Regions from separate parts of the Homo sapiens genome. Here regions 1 and 3 are each linked to region 2. The links come from fine-mapping of genetic effects on gene expression. A gene starts in region 2. Each other region holds a variant in brackets. All regions are shown on one strand. Distances are between the middles of the regions. Region 1 overlaps UGDH (UDP-glucose 6-dehydrogenase). Region 2 holds the start of UGDH (UDP-glucose 6-dehydrogenase). Region 3 overlaps SMIM14 (small integral membrane protein 14).

Region 1 (8,182 bases), 33 kb before region 2:
ACATTACAATTAGACCTTACCTTCACCAGCTGAGTTGTCTTACTGAACCCTCCTCCATGTCCCCTATCCCATACCTCCTGTAGAACCTCAGACCCTTTCTGGGTGTCCCCAGGAGGTTGGAGGCCATGTGTTCACTTCCATTTCAGCTGCTGTTCAAGCAATTTTCCTTTAGCAACTTTCTGATTACTTACTTATTTATTTATTTTTTGAGATAGAGTCTTGCTCTGTTGCCCAGGCTGGAGTGCAGTGGCGTGATCTCAGCTCACTGCAACCTCTGCCTCCCAGTTCAAACGATTCTCCTGCCTCAGCCTCCCTGAGTAACTGGGATTGCAAGTGCCTGCCACCACCCCCAGCTAATTTTTTTTTTTTTTTTGAAATGGAGTCTTGCTTTGTTGCCCAGGCTGGAGTGCAATGGCGCAATCTCACTTCAACCTCCGCCTCCCTGGTTCAAGCCATTCTCCTGCCTCAGCCTCCTGAGTATCTGGGATTACAAGCACCTGCCACCATGCCCAGCTAATTTTTGTATATTTAGTAGAGACAGGTTTTTACCCTGTTGGCCCAGCTGGTCTCAAACTCCTGACCTCAGGTGATCCTCCCATCTTGGCCTCCCAAAGTGCTGGGATTACAGGCGTGAGCTACCGCACCTGGCCAATTTTTGTATTTTTTTAATAGAGACAGGGTTTCACCATATTGGCCAGGCTGGTCTGGAACTCCTGACATCTAGTGATCCTCCAGCCTCAGACTTCCATACTACTGAGATTACAGGTGTGACCACCGCACCCAGTGCAACCTTCTGATTCTTTCCTTGAGATGCTATTTCATTATTCTGTCTAAAGCCATTGGTGCTTGTTCTTCTCTTTTCTTCTTCTTCTTTTTTTTTTTTTTCTGAGACAGTCTCACTCTGTTGCCCAGGCTGGAGTGCAAGGGTGCGATCTTGGCTCACTGCAGCCTCTGCGTCCTGGGTTCAAGTGATTCTCCCTCCTCAGCCTCCCAAGTAGCTGGGATTACAGGCGCCCGCCACCATGCCCAGCTAATTTTTGTTTTTGCTTTTGTTTCAAGATTGAGTTTCGCACTTGCTGCCCAGGCTGGAGTGCAATGGCGCAATATCGGCTCACTGCAACCTCTGCCTCCCGAGTTCAAGTGATTTTCCTGCCTCAGCCTCCCAAGTAGCTGGGATTACAGGTGCCCACTACTATGCCCAGATAATTTTTGTATTTTTAGTAGAGATGGGATTTCACCATGTAGGCCAGGCTGTTCTCGAACTCCCGACCTCAGGTGATCCCCCTGCCTCGGCCTCCCAAAGTGCTGGGATTATAGGCGTGAGCCACTGTGACTGGCCGTTCTTCTTAATAATGATGATAATACAATACCTCTAAAAGTAGGGTATTTTCAGCTTCAAATAAGAAATGTCCTATTCAATCGTGTCATTAAGGAGGACATTTATGTCACCAAACAGGAAGTAGTCTTCAAGGTTCATTGATTCAGGGACTCAACAAAGTAATCGAGGATCTAGGTTTTTCCTTCTATTATCTCTGCCATCTTTGGTGTTGGCTTCACCCCAGTCTGGTAGGATGGTGGCTGTGGCTGTCACAACCAAATACCTGTTATCCAGGGATCATATCCAGCCACAACATCCAGAAGGAGAAGAGAGGGCAACTTTCCTTGTAGCTGTTTCAGGAATGTGTCCCAGGAGCCTTACTAACAAACTACCCCTCAATTCTCAATCGCCAGCATTGGTCACAAGGTTGTTTCTGAAGCAATCATTGGCAAGAAAAATCATTGGCAAGGGAAATTTGTTAAACAAAAGTAAGACGGACCATCCTTGGATCTGAAGGTGAGGTAAGCAGGTGGGGATGAACATCTGAACACTGGGGCTCTGTTAGGAAGGAAGAAAGGGGAATGGATCCTCTGGATGGGCAACCAACAAAGTCCCCCTAACATTTCTGGAGTGTTTCCTGTGTACCACGCCCTGTGCCAAGTGTTTTACACTCTTATCTAATGTAATCCTCACAAACAGCCTTCTGAAGTGTACTGTATTATCCTTGCTTTATATATGAAGAAATTGACTTAAGAAAGTTGACTTATCTGGGCCAAGGTCCCATTTCTACTAAGTGGTAAAAGCAAGATTCAAACTTGATCAAAAACTGGAAGCTACCATTGTTATAATAATTGATTCAGACAGGAATCATTAGTAGATGCTAAAACTAGTGGATGAAAGTTTAAAGGAGTAACAATCTTTTTGTTTGTTTGTTTTGTTTTGTTTTGTTTTTGAGATAGAGTCTCGCTCTGTCACCCAGGCTGGAGTGCAGTGGCACAATCTCTGCTCACTGCAGCCTCAGCCCCCGGGTTCAAGCAATTCTCTTGCCTCAGCCTCCTGAGTAGCTGTGATTACAGGTGCCAGCCACCACGCCCAGCTAATTTTTGTATTTGTAGTAGAGATGGGGTTTCACCATGTTGGCCAGGCTGATCTCGAACTCTCCTGACCTCAGGTGATCCACCCACCTTGGCCTCCCAAAGTGCTGGGATTACAGGCATGAGCCACGGCTCCTGGCCTGTTTTGTTTTTTAGACACAGTTTCACTCTGTCGCCCAGGCTGGAGTACAGTGGTGAGATCTCAGCTCACTGCAACCTCCACCTCAAACAATCCTCCCATCTCAGCCTCCCAAATAGTTGGGACCACAGGCATGCACCACCACACCTGGCTAATTTTTGTATTTTTGGTAGAGATGGGGTTTTGCCAGATTGCTTAAGCAATCTTCCTGCCTTGACTTCCCAAAGTGCTGGGATTACAGGTGTTAGCCACTGCACCTGCCCTATTTCCTTATTTTTTGGGAAATAAAACTCCAATAGCCAACCTCCAAGATGGCTCCCAGTGATTATCACCTCCTGATATCCATGTCTCTTCAGACAGTGAATAGAGCTATCTGGTTAAACAATAGGATATTATAGAAATGATGGGGTATGATTTCTGAGGCTAGATAATAAAAGACATTGGAGGTTCTGTCTTGTCCTCTATTGGTTTTTTCACTCTTGAAGATGCCAACTTGCTATGCTGTGTCATGAGGATATTCAAGCAGTGCTATGAGGAGATCCAGTTGGCAAAGAACTGAGGCCTCCTGTCAACCGCCAGCACTAACTTGATAGTCATATGAGCAAGCCATCTTGGAAGACAATCTTCCAGCCCCAGTCAAGCCTTTTGATGACCAAAGCCCTGGTTGACATTTTGATTACAACCAGACTTTGACCCAGAACCATTTGGCTAAACTGTTCCTGAATTCCTGACCCACAGAAACTGAGATAACCCTGAAGTATTTAGGGGAAAAGGGAATCATGTCTCCAACTTACTCTCTTTTTTTTTTTTTTTTTTTTTTTTTATTGAGACAGAGTCTTGCTCTGTCACCCAGGCTAGAATGCAGTGGCACAATCTCAGCTCACTGCAACCTCTGCCTCCCGGGTTTGAATGATTCTCCTGCCTCAGTTTCCCAAGTAGCTGGGACTACAGGTGCGCACAACCATGCCCGGCTAATTTTTTGTATTTTTAGTAAAGATGAGGTTTTACCATGTTGTCCAGGTTGGTCTCAAACTCCTGACCTTAGCCTCCTAAAGTGCTGGGATTACAGGGATGAGCCACCGCACCTGGCCTTGCAACTTAATCTCAAATCATTCAGGAAAAAAATTTATATAAATATAAATTTTATGTGTGATGTATACAGGAAGGATAAAACAAAGCAAATATAATATTAATATTTAGTGAATAAGAAGGGTATACAGCATTTTTGTACCATTCTTTCAACTTTTCTGTAAATCTAAAATTATGTCAGAATTTAGGGTTTTCTTTTTTTAAAAACTAGCAACCTTTGATCTAGATCTACCCTTCACAGATATTTTGGTGTGTGTAGTGTAAAAATTTGTTTTTAAACATCGTGCCAACACTTATAAATTGAGAGATTTTATATAAAAATCCAGATTTTTACAAAAATTAGTCGGGCATGGTGGTGGGTGCCTGTAATCTCAGCTACTCAGGAGGCTGAAGCAGGAGAATAGCTTGAACCTGCGAGGTGAAGGTTGCAGTGAGCCAAGATTGCACCACTGCACTCCAGCCTGGGCAACAGAGATTCCGTCTCAAAAAACAAAAAACACCACACCACCAAATCCAGATTTTTAGCTTTTTCTTGAGAAATAGGAAGATAAGGCACCAGTGACAAGTACTGCATAACAAAGTATTGGCTTAAGTCTGCATGACAAGTATTGGCCTGATGCCTGGTTAATTCTTTGCATTTGAGAAGAATGACTTTTACCTGGGCACCTTTATGTATCCAGAGAAGCAGAATGACTAATATTAAAAGCTGGAGAGAAAAGTCACATAGTCTGTCCTGAATTCTGGTTCTGCCACTTATTAAGGTGTGACCCTGAGCAAGCTGCTAAATCTTCCGAG[C/A]CTTCTGCCTGTAGTCTGAATCACAGGATCAGAACTTACCTCAAAAGACTTAAATGAGTCCTAGAATAACATGGGGAAGTAAAAAATGAAATGAAATAAAGACTTATGTGAGGAACAGATGAGAAAATGCACCTAAAGGACTTTGCATAGTGCCTGTCCAAAATGTTCAGTGTTAATTACTGTCCTTCTAGTGATTCCAGAGCCTACACGTGGTTCTGGTGCAGTGGGACCAGCTTGTTATGGTGCTAACAGGAGTGCTCATTGCCTGCCAGTCACTGTGCCAAGAAGATCTTTGTGTAAACATTCATCTCATGTAATCTTTATAACAATTCTTCGAGTTGGAGATGGATTATCTGTTTTACAGATGGGAAAAATAAGGCTTTCAGGTAGCTTAGCCAAGAAGTCTTAAGTGGAATTGTAGGAGAGAAAATTGTAGGAGAGAGATTTTGTTTATCCTTTTGTATCTATGTGAATGTCTTTTTACCATGTCCATATATTATTTTCAATTTTTTTTTTTTTTTTTTTTGAGAAGGAGTTTCACTCTTGTTGCCCAGGTCGGAGTGCAATGGCATGATCTCGGCTCACCGTAATCTCCACCTCCCGGGTTCAAGCGATTCTCCTGTCTCAGCCCCCTGAGTAGCTGGGATTACAGGCATGCACCACTACACCCGGCTAATTTTGTATTTATAGTAGAGACGAGGTTTCTCCATGTTGGTCAGGCTGGTCTCGAACTCTTGACCTCAGGTGATCCACCCACCTCGGCCTCCCAAAGTGCTGGGATTACAGGCGTGAGCCACAGCGCCCGGCCTATTATTTTCAATTTTAAGTACAGTTAGTAATCTTACCAATATTCCTCTGCCCTACCAAAAATATATTAGCTAATAAAAAATTGAAACTTTTCCTGGTGGTAGGGATCAGGTATAAAAATTTAAATATATATATTTTTAAAAACTGAAAGTTTGTATGATTAAAAAAAACAACAATTGTCTTTAACTGGTTGAGGAGAGAAAAAAAGACTAACCACCTTCTTTCAACTTTTCACATGAAAGTCTCAAATTGCTGTTAAGTTACATGCCTAATTACTGAGTTTTTCCTCCCATTTCAAACAGCAAGTTTATCTGGCTCTATGAGCCCTCTTTTGCCCATTTTCCTCCATTTACCAGTAACTTTTTTCTTTTTTTTTTGAGACAGGGTCTCACTCTGTCATCCAGACTAGAGTGCAGTGGTACAATCTCGGCTCACTGCAGCCTTGACATCCTGGGCTCAAGTGATCTTCCCACCTCAGCCTCCCAGTTAGCTTGGACTACTGGCATGCACCACCACTCATGGCTAATTTTTTGTATTTTTTTAGAGACGAGGTTTCGCCATGTTGCCCAGGCTGGTCTTGAACTCCTGAGCTCAAGCATCCACCCACCTTGACCTCTCAAAGTGCCGGGATTACAGGCATGAGCCACCACACCCGGCCAGTAATTATATCTTACAATAATTGTTTACTTATCAGTTCCAGGCATTGAAACATCTTGCAATTTAAAACAAGTACCTATTTCTTTCTTTTCTTTTCTTTTCTTTTTTTTCTGAGACAGTTTCGCTCTTGTTGCCCAGGCTGGAGTGCAATGGCGCCATCTTGGCTCACTGCAACCTCTGCTCCCAGGTTCAAGTGATTCTCCTGCCTCAGCCTCCTGAGTAGCTGGGATTACAGGCGCGTGCCACTACGCCTGGCTAGTTTTTTTGTATTTTTAGTAGAGACGGGGTTTCACCATGTTGGCCAGGCTGGTCTCGAACTCCTAACCTCAGGTGATCCCCCACCTCAGCCTCCCAAAGTACAAGCATGAGCCACTGCACCCGGCACAAGTACCTATTTCTTTTTTTCTTCTTTTTGGAGCTCTTTCAAAGGATTTATTTGCTACAGAATTGCTTCAGTCCACCAATGAGATGAACTCAGGACTTCTTTGTTCAAAAGGATTTTGCTTATTGCTGTGTTTTTACAAATTCGGCAACATCCAAATAGCAATTCTTAGGCTGGGCACAGTGGCTTGAACCCCAGGAGGCAGAGGTTGCAGTGAGCCGAGATGGTGCCACTGCACTCCAGCCTGGCCAATAAAACAAGACTCTGTCTCAAAAAAAAAGAACAACAACAACAACAAAAGCAATTTTTTGCCAGCATTTGGCATATCTAGACAAGAGTAGAAAAAGTTTGAATCTATAGCATTAGATGTCTAAAAATAGAAAAAAAAACCATTTAAAAATTTAAAAATTCCTCATTTGGACAGGACAAGTGCCTAATTCTATCTGCTTTAGCATACATCTTCATACATCTTTGGACTTACAATGCCTTTACTAGAATATAAAATTACTAAGCAGAATACAATAATATTTTCAAGCAGAAATGTAAAGCAAATTCTAATTAATAAACTCATCCTCACTTCAAAGTCTTATGAGTAAAGGCTCACCTTATGTTCGAACTCTAGCATTTGTCTCTTTCAGAGGTATGCAGACTTTCTTAAAGGACCAGGTAGGAAATATTTTAGGCTTTGCCAGCCAAGAGGTAAAGTTGAGGATATTATGTAGGGATTTGTATAACCATTTAAAATGTTTGTGCTTTGTTTGTTTGTAGAAATGGGGTCTTACTTATTGCCTAGGCAGTAAGTTGCCCAGGCTGGTCTCAAACTGGCCTTAAGTGATCCTCCCTCTTTGGCCTCCCAAAGTGGTGGGATTACATGCATGAGCCACCATGCCTGGTCAAACCATTTAACATATGACCATGTAAAAATGTAACAACCATTCTTAGCTCACTCATGGCTGGCCAGATTTGACCCAGGGGCTACAGTTTGCCAATGTTTATTTGCTAAATTCTCTCCCTTTGTTGCATCATTTGAGAGAATGATATACCATTTTCTCTAAAAAGTGAGGTGTCATTTTTTTCCCATCTAATGTCAGGCTGTCATGACTCAGTTACTTGTGAATTGACAAAAATTACACCCATATAGTTGTTGATGGAGAATGTTTTATTTATGTAATTTTCATCTGTAGAGATGCTTCTGTCCTCATCTTTATATTTGTCTCCCTCTTCTCATTGAACTGCAAAATTCCTGAAGGATGAGACCTGGGATGTTTAATGCAAACTGTACATTCTCAGCAGAGCACAAGTATCAAAGGGACATTGGATATATTTTAATAATGATCTAACACAAGCAAAAATAACCACTGAAAATATAAAACTCAACAAGAGACATAAGAAAAAAGCAGACAGAAAACAAAAAAAATTCTTATTTTAGAATGATGCTATATGTAACTTGTAAAATATTTAAGTTTTTATACATGAGATTATATTGGTTTCCTTATTTAAAGAAAAAAATTACAATTAAGAATGGAAATTAAAATGTAAAACCAAGATAAATATTTTTGGCTTTTGGACTAAAAAAAAAAAGATTAGTGAGGAAAACCAATAAATAATGGGGAGAGAAAGAAATGCTACTAATTTTCTCTTCATGATTAAAAAAAAAATCTTTTAACCATATTTGGGGTGACTGGAAATTAACAGTGATGATTTTGAGCTAAAAAATCAGTGACACATTTTATTAAAACAAAAGGAACAAAGGAACTTTAACCAGACCATACATGTAAAGGCTGTTTAGCATAGCAATTTCATGGATTCAAAATATATCTTTAATGACAAACAAACCAATAACCAGGAGGAATGAAGACTGTCCTTCCCTTTATAATGTGATATTAAAGTGTGGCCTATGG
Region 2 (8,155 bases):
GTTGCAGCTCCTGGGCTTAAGGAGTTCATAGTTTAATAAGGCACAGCCAGGCTAACAGTTATTTGCTGCTGCTCCCTGCTGTATCCTTGACTCCTAGAATAGCAGCCTCTCAATGATTATTAATTGAATGAATGAGTAACTCTCCACAAGGGCGTCTCTTTTTGAGATGAAGACTTCTGTGTAAATAGCTTTAGTTCAGATTGCCGATCATAGTATTTTTGCAGTAATTGACCAGAATACTATCAACTTTTTTTTTTTTTTTCTGACACAAGGTCTCACTCTGTTGCCCAGGCTGGAGTGCAACAGCACAATCTGGGCTCACCGCAGCCTCCGCCTCCCAGGTTCAAGTGAGTCTCCCACCTAGCCTCCCAAGTACCAAGTACCTGGGACTACAGGTGTCCGCCACCATGTCCAGCTAATGTTTGTATTTTTTCTAGAGACAGGTTTTCACCATGTGGGCCAGGCTGGTCTCAAGCTCCTGACCTCAGTTGATCCACCTGCCTCAGCCTCCCAAAGTGTTGGGATTACAGGTGTGAGCCATCGCATCTGGCCAAGTTCTTTTTTTGAGTTACCTAAAGAACTTCAGCATGTTTCCCCAGAGTTACTTCTTATCTGCCTTGATTGTGAGACCACATTTCAACTTGCTTTACATACATCAGCTGGGATAGACTACTGATGGCAGGTGAACTTGTATCACAGAACTGGATGTGTTTTACACAAGCTTTATTTTGGGTATTCTCGCCTTGCTATTTCCCATGAAATACGGCTTACCGATGACAATGGGAGAATCAATGAAAAGGCTGATGTACAATCTGTGCAAGTCCAAATAAATGCTCACTTGGAAGTTTCAATAAAATCTTCAATAAGCTTTAACATGGAGTTTGACATAGTGTTAGTGACACACTTTGCATGACACAGATGTCTGCCAACTCCATTTTCTATTTCTTTTTTCTTTTTGAGACGGAGTCTCACTGTCACCGAGGCTGGAGTGCAGTGGCACCATGTCGGCTCACTGCAACCTCCGTCTCCTGGGTTCAAGCAATTCTCCTGCCTCAGCCTCCCGAGTAGCTGGGATTACAGGTGCCCACCACCACGCCCAGCTAGTTTTTATATATTTAGTAGAGACGGGGTTTCACCATATTGGTCAGGCTGGTCTCGAACTCCTGACCTCAGGTGATCCATCCACCTTGGCCTCCCAAAGTGCTGGGATTACAGGCGTGAGCCACTGCGCCCAGCCCCATTTTCTTTTCTTTTTCTTTTTTTTTTTTGAGACGTAGTCTCGCTCAGTTGCCCAGGTTGGAGTGCAGTGGCGCAATCTCGGCTCACTGAAAGCTCTGCCTCCCAGGTTCATGCCATTCTCCTGCCTCAGCCTCCCGAGTAGCTGGGACTACAGGCGCCCGCCACTACGCCCGGCTAATTTTTTTTTGTATTTTTAGTAGAGACGGGATTTCACCATGTTAGCCAGGATGGTCTCGATCTCCTGACCTCGTGATCCGCCCGTCTCGGCCTCCCAAAGTGCTGGGATTACAGGCGTGAGCCACCACGCCCGGCCCCCATTTTCTATTTCTACTTTTATGTACCCTCTGGCCCTCTATTCTGCTGTCAGAGACATAGGAGTGTTTCCTTATTAAATGGGTTATTTTGAAATGAGTTTTTACCTCTGTATTTTGGGAGAGTCACAACAAACCAAACCGTTCCAAAACTACTCTTCATGTAAAATTTCATAAATTCAAATAAACATTCCAACCCAGAAGGGGTCACTAACAAATAACAAATGCCCTACTACAATCTAAACGGAATATAATCCTTCTAGCCCCAGCTCTCTACAGCATATTTTGCATAGGTACCCAGGAGCTAACGATGGGCATTATAGTTGGATACATCAGCTTCACACATTTTAATCATTTCCAGAAATTAAACAGTAAAAGATGCCTGACCAGAGAAAAATATTTAATCAGTAAGAAAGCCGGTATTAATTTTATGTCTAAGGGTTATCATGTAAAGCTGTGGAAGTAAACAAGAAGGAAGATGGATTATGCTTATCCAGTTATAGATTTTGTTAGAAAAAGGAGTACAGCAACGGGAGAAGAAATGAGATCTTTTCAATCAGGGTTGTCTACCCCTTACCTTAAACTGGATCCTGGCCACTAATAAGCACATCTCAGAGCAGACAGTCAGCTCTTTCATTTCCAGAACCCCCCTGAAGAAAGACTACTGTTCTCCATTTCTTAAGGGATTTGAAGAAACTCAAAGGCTCACTGTGTCTTTGAGGTCTGTCGATAGACAGCTACTGCTCTGTATGCCCATGAATAGATCCCTACCAGCGAACCCCTCTTTTCTCTATACTAGAATTCCTAACCCTACTAAGTTATCTTCCTATATATTTATAGGACGTATAATTTTTCAAGATCTCACACAAACATGGTCTCCCGAGGCACCCAGGAAAGGCCTTCCCCGACATCAAACAGAGCAATTCTGTGGTGTAGGGGGCCAACAATGGATTCCAGGACATCCCGGACAGATATCACGGCAGTCTTAGTATTTTGCTCTCAAGAGGGCTTTCTGGCTTCGTTTCTCTTTGGTTTCTTAAGAGGGGCGGCATGAGAAAAGCAGGAGCCCCTCAGGTGAGCAGACTCTTAAACACAAACAAAAGACTACGACTCTGCGGCCAAAATGAGGTCCCCAACGAGAGAACCGCTTCCTGTGGTGGGCGTTCGGCTTTGGAGGCGGCAGGGAAATCTCATCCAAGTCAGGAAAGTGGGTAAAGGCAGAAAGAGAAGGGGCTGGAAGACTCACGAGTCTTGAATAAGAAGCCCAGACGACCACATCCCCAGGACAGCAGTTCCAAAATGCGGTTCCCGCCCTAAGCCCCAAAGAGACGAAGGTCGTGAGACGGGAAGCCCGGGACCCAGCGCAGCGAGCGACCGGGAGCAGCGCGCACACCCCAGCCCCGCTCCCTCCACATCCCGCCCAGACCTGGGAGCATCCCGCCCGGGCGGCGGGGCCAGCCTGGGAGCGGCGCTTACCCACTTCCCAGCAGCAAGCGCAGGGACCGCTCCTATCCCGATCGTTCGGACAGCACCTTCCTACGGGCCGCGCCGCCGCAGCTTCTCCACCCGCGCCCCGCTCGATCTGAGCTCCCTCTCGGCGCACGCCCCTCCCTCAGGCTGCCACGCGTTACACTCTGAGTCCCGGGCCTGAGCCCGTATTTAAAGGCTTTTGCCTGCGAAGGCGGAGGCTTCATTCCCCCGCAGCCAGGCCCTCCTGGATTCTGCCCTCAGCTGCTTCCTAGCTCCCCCTCCCGCTACACAAGGCCCAGGGCCAGGTCCCTATTTCCTTCACGGCTCAGGGGCGGGGAGACTGGGGCTGGTCCTGGCTGGGAGGGCCTGCCCCGCCCCTGGCCTAGCTGGGCAAATCCGCTTTGGCCAGCTCAGCGGCTCCGCCCCTACCGCGAGCGGCGCTGGGCGGGGCTGCGTGCGTGGCGTGTCCGCTGGACCAGGGGACGGGGGCGCGCCGCAGGTGTAGGAGCTTTGCGCGCCTACCTGGCGGTCGTGGGTCGAGGAGGGGTCAAGAATTGTTGTCTAGCAGCCCTCTCCCCGCTGCCCTGTCCTGGCCGAGGCAAAGGCCGCGTGCGCTCCGCGTCTGCCAGGCTTTAGGGCTGCGCGGACACTGGGTGGGTGGTGGGCCGAGGCGACCGGAAGGTCCTGGCCGCCTTTCCGGTCTCCTCAGCACCCTGGAGCGCCGCCCTCGGGTTTCGGTCTCCTGGATCTGCGGGTCGGTCTCGGCGGGCGGATTACTCCTCGCCCACAACCTCGAGGCCCCGGGGTCAACCGCGCCCTCCGGGCCGGCAACCCAGGGTTTAGTCAGATTCCTCCTGACCCACCGCTTCTGGGAAAGAGGCGCCTCCCGTCAGGAGGATGCTGAGTTCCTCATGACTGGACCAGTGAGTGTCCACTCCCTGGTCCCTGGCGAGAGAGGCGGGACCCCCACGCCCTCCTGGCGCTCTTTGCAGAGATGTTCCTCAGGCCCAATCCGGGATTTGGGATGTCTGTGCGTGCTGTGGAGCAGAGAGTTTGCAACATGTAAGTGCCGTGCGTGAGGAAGAGTAAAATTAACCTATGGAGCCTGCTCATTTTTAATGTGGAGGGCAGTTCCGTTCCTTTCTTTCGCCGCTTCGAGGTCATTTTAACACTCAAATCTAACATATAAGAAAAAAAGCCAGGCATAATCATGGCCTTTTATTTCCCTCATTAAGGATTACATCAGGTGACATAAGCCATTTTAACATACATCATGAAGAAAGTGATTAGTAATTTATAAAGGCACATTAAAATACCATATAAATTACGGTTTTCTTGATAGGATCATGATGGTGACTTTAAGAAAGTGGTTGAATGTGGATGAAACAGTTTGCTGTGGATTGTAGCACGTGTGGCAGGATATGTAGGCTTGTTGGTTGGTTGTTTTGAGACGGAGTCTCCCTCTTGTCGCCGAGGCTGGAGTGCAGTGGTGCGATCTCGGCTCACCTCAACCTCCTCCTTCCAGATTCAAACGATTCTCCTGCCTCAGCCTCCCGAGTAGCTGGGATTACAGGCGCCCACAACCATGCCCGGCTAATTTTTATATTTTTAATAGAGACCGGGTTTTGCTATGTTGACCAGGCTGGTCTCAAACTCCTGACCTCAGGTGATCCGCCCGTCTCGGCCTCCCAAAGTGCTGGGATTACAGGTGTGAGCCACTGTGCCTGGCCAGTATATGTAGGCTTTCTGCATTCTATGCAGTTCAGTTCATTCATCCAACAAATATTTAATGCCTGTTGTGTGTCAGACGTTATCCTAAAGACTGAAGATGCAAAAGGGATTAAGACTCAATTCCTTTGGCCAGGCACGGTGGTTTACGCCTGTAATCCCAGCACTTTGGGAGGCCATAGCGGGCGGATCACCTGAGGTCAGGAGTTCCAGACCAGCCTGGCCAACATGGTGAAACCCCGGCTCCACTAAAAATACAAAAAGTTAGCCGGGTGAGGCGGTGGGCACCTGTAATCCCAGCTGCTCAGGAGGCTCCCTGTTGCAGTGAGCCGAGATCACACCACTGCCCTGCAGCCTGGGGAACAGAACGAGACACTGTCTCAGAAAAATAACCAAACAAAAAAGACTCATTTCCTTCTTGCAAAGCTCACAGGTTGGGTAGAAGAGATATGTAAACAAGTAATTGCACTAGATATGACAAGTACATCTTTTTGAACATACATAGATTTAAGTTATCTAATACAGTTTGCTTTGTAATAAAAACCACTTATCTTAGTCCCTTCATTTTGAATTCAACATTTTTCTATTTAGTATTCACCTCACATTCTTTTTTAGTATTTTGGTAGAATCAGACTCTTCAAAACGGTTAATAGGATTTCAGAAATTAAGTCAATTTTCAGTGCCAGCTAGAATGGACCTTTGGATTTAGGACAGAGGTTCTCCAAATGTGAGCTGGGGACTGTAGACAATCTCCGAGGTTCTTTCTGGGATCCATGAGGTCAAAAAGTTTTCATGTGTTACTTGCTTTTTTCACTCTTGTTCTCTCAGAAGTGTACAATGAAGTTTTGTGGAGACTATAATGTGCTATCAAAGCAAATAGAATTAAGCTGTTTTTTAAGTCAGATATTAGAGATTTACAAAAATGTAAAACAATGCCAATCTTATCTTTTGTTTTTAAAATATAGTAATTTTTCATTAAAATATGATATTTATGTTAACATGTAATGGGCTTATTGTCAATTTTAAGGAATTAATCTTTTATATATAATTTATCAGTTTTCATTTCTAATATGGTAAATACCAATAGTTACAATCCACATGAAAAAAACTTCTTTGAGTCTTCAATTTTTAAACATGCCAAGGGGTCTTGATACTACAAACTTTGAGAACTGCCAAGGTAGGCTAGTTATTTTCAAATTATGTTTCATGGAGCCCTGAATCCTCTGGTAGTGTGTCAGAAATCTGTGAGGATAGAGAATCAGTAGGAAGTTAAAGACAAGGCTCTGGGTTCCCACATCTCCCCGTCTTCTCTAATGGCAGTTCAATTTTTCTCTGTTTATCTGGTTTTTTGTTTTTTGCTTTTTGTTTTTTTTTTCTTGAGACGGAGTCTCGCTCTGTCATCCAGGCTGGAATGCAGTGGTGCAATCTTAGCTCACTGCAACCTCCACCTCCCAGGTTCAAAAGATTCTCCTGCTTAGGCCTCCCAAATAGCTGGGACTACAGGTGCGCACCACCACATCACGCTAATTTTTGTGTTTTTAGTAGAGACAGGGTTTTGCCATGTTGGCCGGGCTGGTCTCAAACTCCTGACTTCAGGTGATCCACCTGCCTTGGCTTCCCAAAGTGCTGGGATTACAGGCATGAGCCATCATGCCTGGCCTGTTTATCTGCTTTTTGTATCAATTAGGTGGAGACTCTCAAACTTCAATTCTTGACTACTGTGTACCTACAGGCTCAACACCAAGTGGAAGCTGCCAAGGCTTGGGGCTTCCACCCTCTGAAGCAATAGCCCAAGCTATGCCTCAGCCCCTTTTAGTTACAGCTGGGGCAGCTGGGACACAAGGCACCAAGTTCCTAGACTGCACACAGCAGAGGGATCCTGGGCCCGGCCCACAAAACCATTTTTTCTTCCTAAACCTCCAGGCCTGTGATGGGAGGAGCTGCCATGAAGATCTCTGACATGCCCGTTTTCCCCATTGTCTTGGTGATTAACATTCGGATCTTCCTTACTTATGCAAATTTCTACAGCTAGCTTGAATTTCTCCTCAGAAAATGAGATTTTCTTTTCTGTCATGTTGTCAGGCTGCAAATTTTCCAAACTTTTATGTTCTGTTTCCCTTAAAAACTGAATGCCTTTAACAGCACCCAAGTCACCTCTTGAATGCTTTGCTGCTTAGAAATTTCTTCTGTCAGATACCCTAAATCATCTCTCTCCAGTTCAAAGTTTCACAAATCTCTATGGCAGGGGCAAAGTGCCGCCAGCCTCTTTGCTAAAACATAACAAAAGTCACCTTTGCTCCAGTTCCCAACAAGTTCCTCATCTCCATCTGAGACCACCTGATTGGATTTCATTGTCCATATAATTATCAGCATTTTTGTCAAAGCCATTTAACAAGCCTCTAGGGAGTTCTAAACTTTCCTGCATTTTCCTGTCTTCTTCTGAGCCCTCCAGACTGTTCCAACATCTGGCTGTTAACCCAGTTCCAAAGTTGCTTCCATATTTTTGGATATCTTTTTAGCAGTGCCTCACTCTACTGGTACCAATTTACTGTGTTAGTTCTTTTTCATGCTGCTGATAAAGACATACCCAAGACTAGGAAATTTACAAAAGAAAGAGGTTTATTGGACTTACAGTTCCACATGGCTGGGGAAGCCTCATAATCATGGTGGAAGGTGAAAGTCATGTCTCACATGGCAGCAGACAAGAGAAGAGAGAACTTGTGCAGGGAAACTCTCATTTTTAAAACCATCAGATCTCATGAGACTTATTCACTATCACAAGAACAGCACGGGAAAGACCTGCCCCCATGATTCAATTATCATCTGCCGGGTCCCTCTCACAACATGTAGGAATTATGGGACCTACAAGATGAGATTTGGGTGGGGACACAGAGCCAGTCATAGTAAGGTATTGTTTGGGTAAAACATAAGCCTTTCTTTCCTTTCTTTTTTTTTTTTTTACAGGGTCTCACTTTGTCACCCAGGCTGGAATGCATTGGCATGAACACGTCTCACTGCAGCCTCAACCTCCCAGGCTGAAGTGACCCTCCAACTCTGCTTTCACAGTAGCTGTGATATGGTTTGGCTGTGTCCCCACCCACATCTCATCTTAAAACCCAGTGGGAGGTAATTGAATCATGGGGGCAAGTCTTTCCTGTGCTGTTCTTGTGATAGTGAATAAGTCTCATGAGATCTGATGGTTTTTAAAAGAGTTCTGGCTGGGCATGGTGGTGGGCACCTGTAATCCAAACTACTAGGGAGGCTGAGGCAGAGTGAATTGCTTGAACCTGGGAGAAGGAGGTTGCAGTGAGCCGAGATTGCACCGCTGCACTCCAGCCTGGGCAAAATTGAAGACTCTGTCTCCAAAAAAAAAAAAAAGGAGTTCCTCTGCATAAGCTCTCTCTCTT
Region 3 (8,182 bases), 56 kb after region 2:
TCAGTAGAGACGGGGTTTCACCATGTTGGTCAGGCTGGTCTTGAACTCCTGACCTCATGATCCGCCCACCTCAGCCTCTCAAAGTGCTGGGATTACAGGTGTGAGCTACCGCACCCAGCCCCTGTCTCTGTTTCTAAGGCAAAGTTTCAAACTATGAAAAAGATAAACACAACCTATTATCAACCTTAAATTCACCATGAGGATTAAGTGATATAATTAAATATATAAATAAAATATTAATGTACATAAAGAACTCAGCTCATGGCCCACAGAATTTTTTCACATCATTGCAATATTATAGCTAATATCACGTGCTTAATTAAGAAAGTGTCTTAACAGAACTCTAGTGTTTCCTAATGAGCATAATTTATTGTACATCATCCTAGAACTTATCCTTAATCTTCAATTTGGCCTTTCTGCTTAAGAAGGAAAAAAACCTTTAAAATACCTTAGTCTTTAATATTTTGGATTTTAGTATTATTTATATTGTGCATTTTTCTCTATACTGTCCAACAAAATGTTTTTTAAATATTTTATGCCTAAACATTTTATATTCTCCCTCTAAAATTCAAATGTTTAAGTTCCTTCTCTATTAATGAGCAGATCTGCCTGTTAACAATGGAGTTTTACACAGTTTGTCTCTTCACTTTAACCAGAACCTGAAATCATACTTTTGCTTTTGTTTTTGCAGGCTACTTAATTATCATAACTTCTTAGGATCATCAGAATTAAAAGACACACACACAGATTTCCACTGGTTAACTTTAACTCAGTAGGTGTCTTTTCTTTTTTCGTTTTTTTCCTTTTCTTTTTCTTTTTTTTTTTTTTTGAGACAGGGTCTTGATCTGTCACCCAGGCTGGAGTGCAGTGGTGTGATCTAGGCTCACTGCAACCTCTGCACCCCCACCCACCCCCTACCCCAGCACCAAGCTCAAGTGACGATCCTCAGCCTCCCTCAGCCTCCTGAGCAGCTGGGACCACAGGAGTAGCTCGAACCTCAGGCGCACAACCACCACACCTGGCTGTTTTTGTATTTTTAGTAGAGACGGAGTTTCACCATGTGGCCCAGGTTGGTCTTGAACTCCTGAGCTCAAGGAATCCACACACCTGGGCCTTCCAAAGTGCTGGGATTACAGGCGTGAGCCACCATGCCCAGCAAATGTCTTTTCTTTTTTTTTTTTTTTGAGACTGAGTTTCACTCTTGTTGCCCAGGCTGGAGTGCAATGGCACGATCTCTGCTCACTGCAACCTCCGCCTCCTGGATTCAAGTGATTCTCCTGCCTCAGCCTCCCAAGTGGCTGGGATTGCAGGCATGTGTCACCACAGCCAGCTAGTTTTGTGTTTTTAGAAGAGACAGGGTTTCTCCATGTTGGTCAGGCTGGTCTCAAACTCCCGACCTCAGGTGATCTGCCCGCCTCGGCCTCCCAAAGTGCTGGGATTACAGGAATGAGCCACCGCGCCTGGTCTAGCAAATGTCTTTTCTTAGATAAACTATAACCAACACACTGGAAGAAGAGTACCCTCTGAAACCTAAAGGTTATTATCACTTTGCCTACAGTATCTGTGTTGTCTGGCTTCCCCCATAACTTGTATTTAACTGGATCTTTCCTTTGCAGCAAATAATTCATAAGAGAAAAAAGGGGAAGAAGTGGATTCTTTTTGAATATGAAAGGGTCTTGGCCGGGCACGGTGGCTTATGCCTGTAATCCCAGCACTTTGGGAAGCCGAGGCAGGTGGATCACTTGAGGTCAGAAGTTCCAGACCAGCCTGACCAACATGGTGAAACCCTGTCTCTACTAAAAATACGAAATTAGCTGGGTGTGGTGGTGCACGGCTGTAATCCCAGCTACTTGGGAGGCTGAGGCAGGAGAATCGCTTGAACCCAGGAGGCAGAGGTTGCAGTGAGCCAAGACTGTGCCAATGCACTCCAGCCTGGGCAACAAGAGTGAAACTCCATTTCAAAAAAAAAAAGAAAGGGTCTTATAGAAAAAGACCAGCTATATATTCCAGTTGTACTGGTCCACCAGTAGCTAAATTCTACTTCAGTATTCATTTAAATGGCATTTGTGTTTCACCTTTAATTTTTTATTTTTATTTATTTATTTTTGCAACAGAGTCTCGCTCTTTTCACCCAGGCCGGATTGTGGTGGCAAGATCTCAGCTCACCACAACCTCCGCCTCCCGGGTCCAAAATTCTCGTGCCTCAGCCTCCCAAGTAGCTGGGATTACAGGCACCCACCATCACACCCGGCTAATTTTTATATTTTTAGTAGTTCAGGGTTTTGCCATGTTGGCCAGGCTGGTTTTGAACTCCTGATCTCAGATGTTCCACCCGCCTCAGCCTCCCAAAGTACTGGGATTACACGCGTGAGCCACCGCATCCAGCCGTTTTGTTTTTTTAAGAGACAGGGTGTCACTCTGTTGCCCTGGCTGGTGTGCAGTGGCACAATCATGGCTCACTGCAGCCTCGACCTCCCAGGCTTAAGCAATCCTCCCACCTCAGCTTCCTGAGTTGTTGGGACTATAGGCACATGCCACCACACTGGGCTAATTTTTTATTTTATTTTATTATTTTTAGAGACAAGGTCTCACTGTGTTGCCCAGGCTGGTCTCAAACTCCTGGGCTCAAGCAATCTTCCCACCTCAGACTCCCAAAGTGTTAAGATTACAGGTGTGAGCCAACTTGCCTGGGCTATTATTCTAACTGGTTTTAAGTATTCCGATAATCAGCTTCAGGTCATTCATTCCAAATTGGGGTTTGGAAACATAGTCACAAAACGAGGGAGGCTGTATTACAGATCCAAAGATCTAGAAGGAGCCCAACATGGAAAATAAAACATAAAGCCCCTATAAAAATAACGCAAACATGACCTTCTTTCTAATGTGGCTCCCTATTGTTCTAGTTGTTATGGATAAAGCAGTGAACAAAATGGACAAAATCCCACCATCCAATGATAACCATTCTGTTACCATTTTAGTTAATGTGTTCCACATACGTGTACACATTTTTCTAACACAGTATATATGATGGCACAGATTTTACAAGATAAGACCCTGAGTTATTTTGCTCTTTCTGCCACACTTACCAATCAGTCACAAACTGATGCCTCCAAATAGCTCAAACTTATCTTTCAATGCTGCACCAGTATTTCATTTAATTTCATCATTTCCAAATTTATATATGAAAAACAATGCTGTGTATATGTTCCTATAAATACATTCTTACACACCTGATTAATCTCCTCAGGGAAGAATTGCTAGAACACAAGTATGCACACTGTAAGTTTTGATACACATAGCCAAACTACAATAGGAGAATTTTTTTTAATGATGAAATACAAATACAGTACGTTCAATTCAAGTCTTCCTGGATGATCACATCTCTGCAGAAGCCCAGTGTTTCAACTGGGAAACCAGCTAGAACCTAATACTACATCTGATCACATTTTGATTAAGTAACATCTCTATGCAGTACTCCATAATGAAAATAATTTGGACTAGGCACAGTGGCTCACACCTGTAATCCTCGAACTTTGGGAGGCCAAGGCAGGTGGATCAGTTGAGGTCAGAAGTTTGAGACCAGCCTGGCCAACATGGTGAAACCTTGTCTCTACTAAAAATATAAAAATTAGCCGGGCATGCTGGTGTGCACCTATAATCCCAGCTACTCAGGAGGCTGAGGCAGGAGAATTGCTTGAACCTGGGAGGTGGAGTTTGCAGTGAGCCGAGATCTTGCCACTGCACTCCAGCCTGAGCGACAGAGTAAGACACTGTCTCAAAAAAAAAAAAAAAAAAAAAAAAGACAAACAGGCTGGGCGCAGTGGCTCATGCCTGTATTCCCAATAATTTAGGAGGCCTAGGTGGGCAAATTGCTTGAGCCCAGGAGTTCAAGACCAGCCTGGGCAATATAGGGAGACCCTGTCTCTACAAGAAATACAAAAATTAGCTGGGTGTGGTGGCACACATCTATAGTCCCAGCTACTTGGGAGGCTGAGGTGGGAGGACGGTTTGAACCTAGGAGGCAGAGGTTGCAGTAAACCAAGATCATGCAACTGCACTCCAGCCTGGGTAATCAAGCAGGACCTTGT[C/CAA]AAAAAAAAAAAAAAAAAAGAAAAAAGAAAAAAAAATTTTTGTAAAGACTACAAATAATCAGGTTAAAGGCAAATCTAAATATATTTTGAATGTCTAACACTAATAGGTTGGGCTACTTTGCCTAAATGATATGCAGGTTGAGCAACCACTCCAGATTTTCTCATATACTTTCCCCAGCTCTACAAAGCACATTCTGAATTTGAGTTTACTTTATTGAACCAAAAATGATGCAATTTACTGTCATTAAAGACATAACAGTAAATGCATAGCCATACCCTATGAAACAGTTTATTTCAATTATATATAAAAGTATATAAGTGCCTAGAAATGTGACTAAAAGGTCCACAAACTTAATGTGACCTCTGACAAAACAAGTAATAGTGGCCATGAAGTGGGATGGATGAGTGGGGAGCAATAGAAAGGGACATGTTTACATTTTGCTCCATATTTCTACATTATTTCAGGCTTTCATGGTCTAGATATTCACATATTACTTCTATTATTATTATTATTATTATTAGAGACAGAGTTTTGCTCTTGTTGCCCAGGCTGGAGTGCAGTGGTGCAATCTTGGCTCACTGCAACCTCCACCTCCCAGGTTCAAGTGATTCTCCTGCCTCAGCCTCCTGAGTAGCTGGGATTACAGGCGTGCGCCACCATGCCCAGCTAATTTTTGTATTTTTAGTAGAGACGGGGTTTCTCCATGTTGGTAAGTCTGGTCTCGAACTCCCGACCTCAGGTGATCTGCCCGCCTTGGCCTCCCAAAGTGCTGGGATTACAGGCATGAGCCACTGCGCCCAGCCTACTTCTATTATTAAAAGAAAAGACAGAGAATTCCAATACTATGACACTGCTAAAAAGGAGCCTGACTTTGATTTGCTAATATCAAAAGATTAAAGTGAAGATGTACGAAGTGGGAAAAAAAAAAGTTGCAGAAATGTATTGTCCTGCAAGGCTCCAGGTAGCACCAACCCCAAGGCTTTGATGACCAAAAAGCTTTGGGCAGAGGCCAACCGGTGTGCTGATACAGAAGGGATGGTCCACCCCCTTTGAAACCAAAGAGGCAGCCCTGATCATCTCTGAATTGCTGTTAAGGTCGCTCTTCCCTTGTCATGAAGAATAATGTCCAGATCATTCTTCCCTTGCCTTGAAGAATAATGTACACTTGCAGCCCAATAGCTCTACGGTCTTGTCCTGTAAAATAAAAGAACTCCGACCTCTATTTCTCCTTCATTCCATCCAGTCTCCCTCCCTTTTAGTTCAACCTGGCAGTTTCCTGCTGGGGGCTGGTGATTTGATTCTGCAGTTCTCACCCACACAAATCTTATCAAGTGGTTAGTCTACCATACCTTTAGTGTTCTCTTGTGAACTTTCTTACTTTTTGTTATGTGGACAGGCTGAGAATTTTCCAAATCTTTAAGTTGTGGTTCCTTTTTGCTTAATAATTCCATCTTCAATTGGCTTCCCTCTTTTCAATTTTTACTATAAACAATCAGGAGGAACCAAGCCATTCCTTCAACATTTTGCTTAGAAATCTCCTCAGCTAAGTATCCAACTTCATCACTCACAAGTTCTACCTCCCACCCAGAAAACACTAGAACACAAACATAATTCAGCCAAGTTCTTTGCTACTTTGTAACAAAGATTGCCTTTTCTCCATTGTCCAGTAACGTTCTTCATTTCTAAGACCATATCAGAATGGCCTTTATTTTCTACTAAAATTCTGTACATGATTATTTATGTATTCTGTAAGATGGAAGCTTGCTCTACCATTCTCCTCTCTTCTTGCTGAGCTCTCTCCAAAATCACCTTTAATGCCCTTACTTCTACCAACAGTCCCTCACAGCAAATATCAGCTTGTTCTAGCATGCACTTAAAAACTCTTCCAGCCTATATCCATTACACAGTTGCAAAGTCACTTACCCGTTTTTAGGTATTTGTTATAGTAGCATCCCACTTTTTAGTAACACTTTTTGTCTTAGTTTGGGCTGCAATAACAAATACTATGGGCCAGGTAGCTTACATACAAACATTTATTTCTGACAACTATGAAGGCTGGGAAATCCAAGATCAAAGTTCTAGCTGATTTGGTTCCCAGTGTGGGTCCTCTTACTGGCTTGTAGATAGAGGTCTTCTTCCTCCATCCTCACATGGTAGAGAAGAGGATCATCTCTTTTCTGTCTCTTCTAATATGGGCACTAATCCTATCACAAGGCCTCTACCCTCATGAACTCATTACCTTCCAAAGGTCCCACCTCCAAATGCTAGCACATTGGGGATTAGGGAATTCAACATATGAATTTTGGGGGGAAGGTACACAAACATTTAGTCCATAGCATGTATATATACTATGATCCCTTCTATGTAAAACAAAAATATAAACTATATACATACGTATATGCATATTAAATTTCTAGAAGGAGCCAGGCACGGTGGCTCACGCCTGTAATCCCAGCACTTTGGGAGGCCGAGGTGGGTGGATCACGAGGTCAGGAGATCGAGACCATCCTGGCTAACACAGTGAAACCCCGTCTCTACTAAAAATACAAAAAAATTAGCCAGGCATGGTGGCGGGTGCCTGTAGTCCCAGCTACTCGGGAGGCTGAGGCAGAAGAATGGCATGAAACAGGGACGTGGAGCTTGCAGGAGCCAAGATCGCGCCACTGCACTCCAGCCTGGGAGACAGAGTGAGGCTCCATCTCAAAAAAAAAAAAAAAAAAAAAAAAAATTCTAGAAAGATGTGTGTCTATACTTTCCAAAAACAGCCACAGAATTAAAGCCAAACATGCTCTTCTAGAATCTTGCCACTCCCCATTGAGAGGTGAAATCTGGCCAGACTCTGTGGCTCATGCCTGTAATCCTAACACTTTGGGAGGTCAAGGCAGGAGGAACGCTTGAGCCCAGGCTATGGTCAAGCCATTGCCCTCCATCCTGGGTGACAGAGCAAGACCCTGTCAAAGAAGAAAGGAGGAAGAAGGAAGAAGAAAGGAAAGAGGGAGGAAGGAAAGAGAGAAATCTGTTTGCCCTCCTCTTGAACCTGGACAGGCCTGTGACTGCTACACCCAAGAATATAGGAAAGGTGTTATGACTTCTTACACTAAGTTCTCTCCCTCTCCCATCTCCTCTCAGGAGGGATGTTCTCCCTTGGAACCAGGCCACCATTCTATGAGGAAGCCAAGCAGCCACATGAAAAGGCCGTATGTAGACATTCTAACTGACAATACTAGCTAAGGTTCCAGCTACTCACCAGCATCAACTATCAGACAGTGAGTAACCAAGTTTCCAGATACTTCCTGCCCTCAGCTTCTATGTCTTCTAGCTAAGAACACAAACAATGATCAGCAGACAAGCTGTGTGAATTCCAGACACAGTCTGTCAGCTTAATGAATGGTTGTTCTATGGAACTAAGTTTTGGGGAAATTTGTTATACAATAATAATAATGGGAACAATACACAAGAAACTGTCGGCTGAGGGTGGTGGCTCACGCCTGTAATCCCAGCACTTTGGGAGGTCAAGAAGGGAAGAGTGCTTGAGGCCAGGAGTTTGAGACCAGCCTGGGCAAAATAGAGAGACCCCATCTCTATTCTAAATAAATAAATAAAACGTAACTATACATCCTAAATACACAGTTCAAAATTGGTAAGACCAATTGTATTGCTAATTATAGAAGGCTATGTGCCTTTTATGTCTTCCAGTGCCTGCATATTGATTTAAAAAAAGGATTAAGATTTGAAACAAAGTAGTCCACTGAAATTTCCTTATTGACTAAAATAAAACTCAAAAGTTAATCACACGATTAAAAAAGCTTTCATAGCAACATGAAAAATGCAAAATATTATTAAATTGAGGAAAATATACATATTCCATAGTATCTAAAAACATATTTCTTAAAAAGATCTGGGAAGATACACACCAATTCATCTAGGAAAGTAGGAAATAAAAGCTAAGTATGGGGAAAGGAGTTCAGCCTTACTTTTAATGTATTGATATTTTTTGAAAACACATATTCATATATTATTTATATAAATAATTAAATATTTTAAAAAGAAAAACAAATATTTTACAAAAGTTTTAACACAACTAGCAAAAATA

The links. PIP is the estimated chance that this variant, and not a neighbour inherited with it, causes the effect.
Region 1: its variant is fine-mapped to the expression of UGDH in whole blood (INTERVAL, PIP above 0.99).
Region 3: its variant is fine-mapped to the expression of UGDH in B cells (Schmiedel 2018, PIP 0.95).

Annotation. Positions count from the first base shown.
Region 1 is chr4:39,491,336-39,499,517 of GRCh38, forward strand. It overlaps UGDH (UDP-glucose 6-dehydrogenase), which reads right to left. Exons shown (of 12, transcript NM_003359.4): 12 at 7,420-8,182. Among named protein-coding and RNA genes, the nearest start is that of UGDH, 32 kb to the right of the region's middle. The variant C/A (reference allele first, on the strand shown) is at 4,436.
Region 2 is chr4:39,524,257-39,532,411 of GRCh38, forward strand. It overlaps UGDH (UDP-glucose 6-dehydrogenase), which reads right to left and starts at 3,183. Exons shown (of 12, transcript NM_003359.4): 1 at 3,027-3,183. UGDH-AS1 (UGDH antisense RNA 1) reads left to right here and starts at 3,583. Exons shown (of 5, transcript NR_047679.1): 1 at 3,583-4,082; 2 at 7,713-7,874. RefSeq lists silencers at 2,898-3,077, 3,328-3,627 and an enhancer at 4,008-4,067.
Region 3 is chr4:39,580,705-39,588,886 of GRCh38, forward strand. The region is part of intron 2 of SMIM14 (small integral membrane protein 14); the gene reads right to left. UGDH-AS1 (UGDH antisense RNA 1) reads left to right here. Exons shown (of 5, transcript NR_047679.1): 3 at 7,219-7,355. Among named protein-coding and RNA genes, the nearest start is that of SMIM14, 54 kb to the right of the region's middle. The variant C/CAA (reference allele first, on the strand shown) is at 4,089.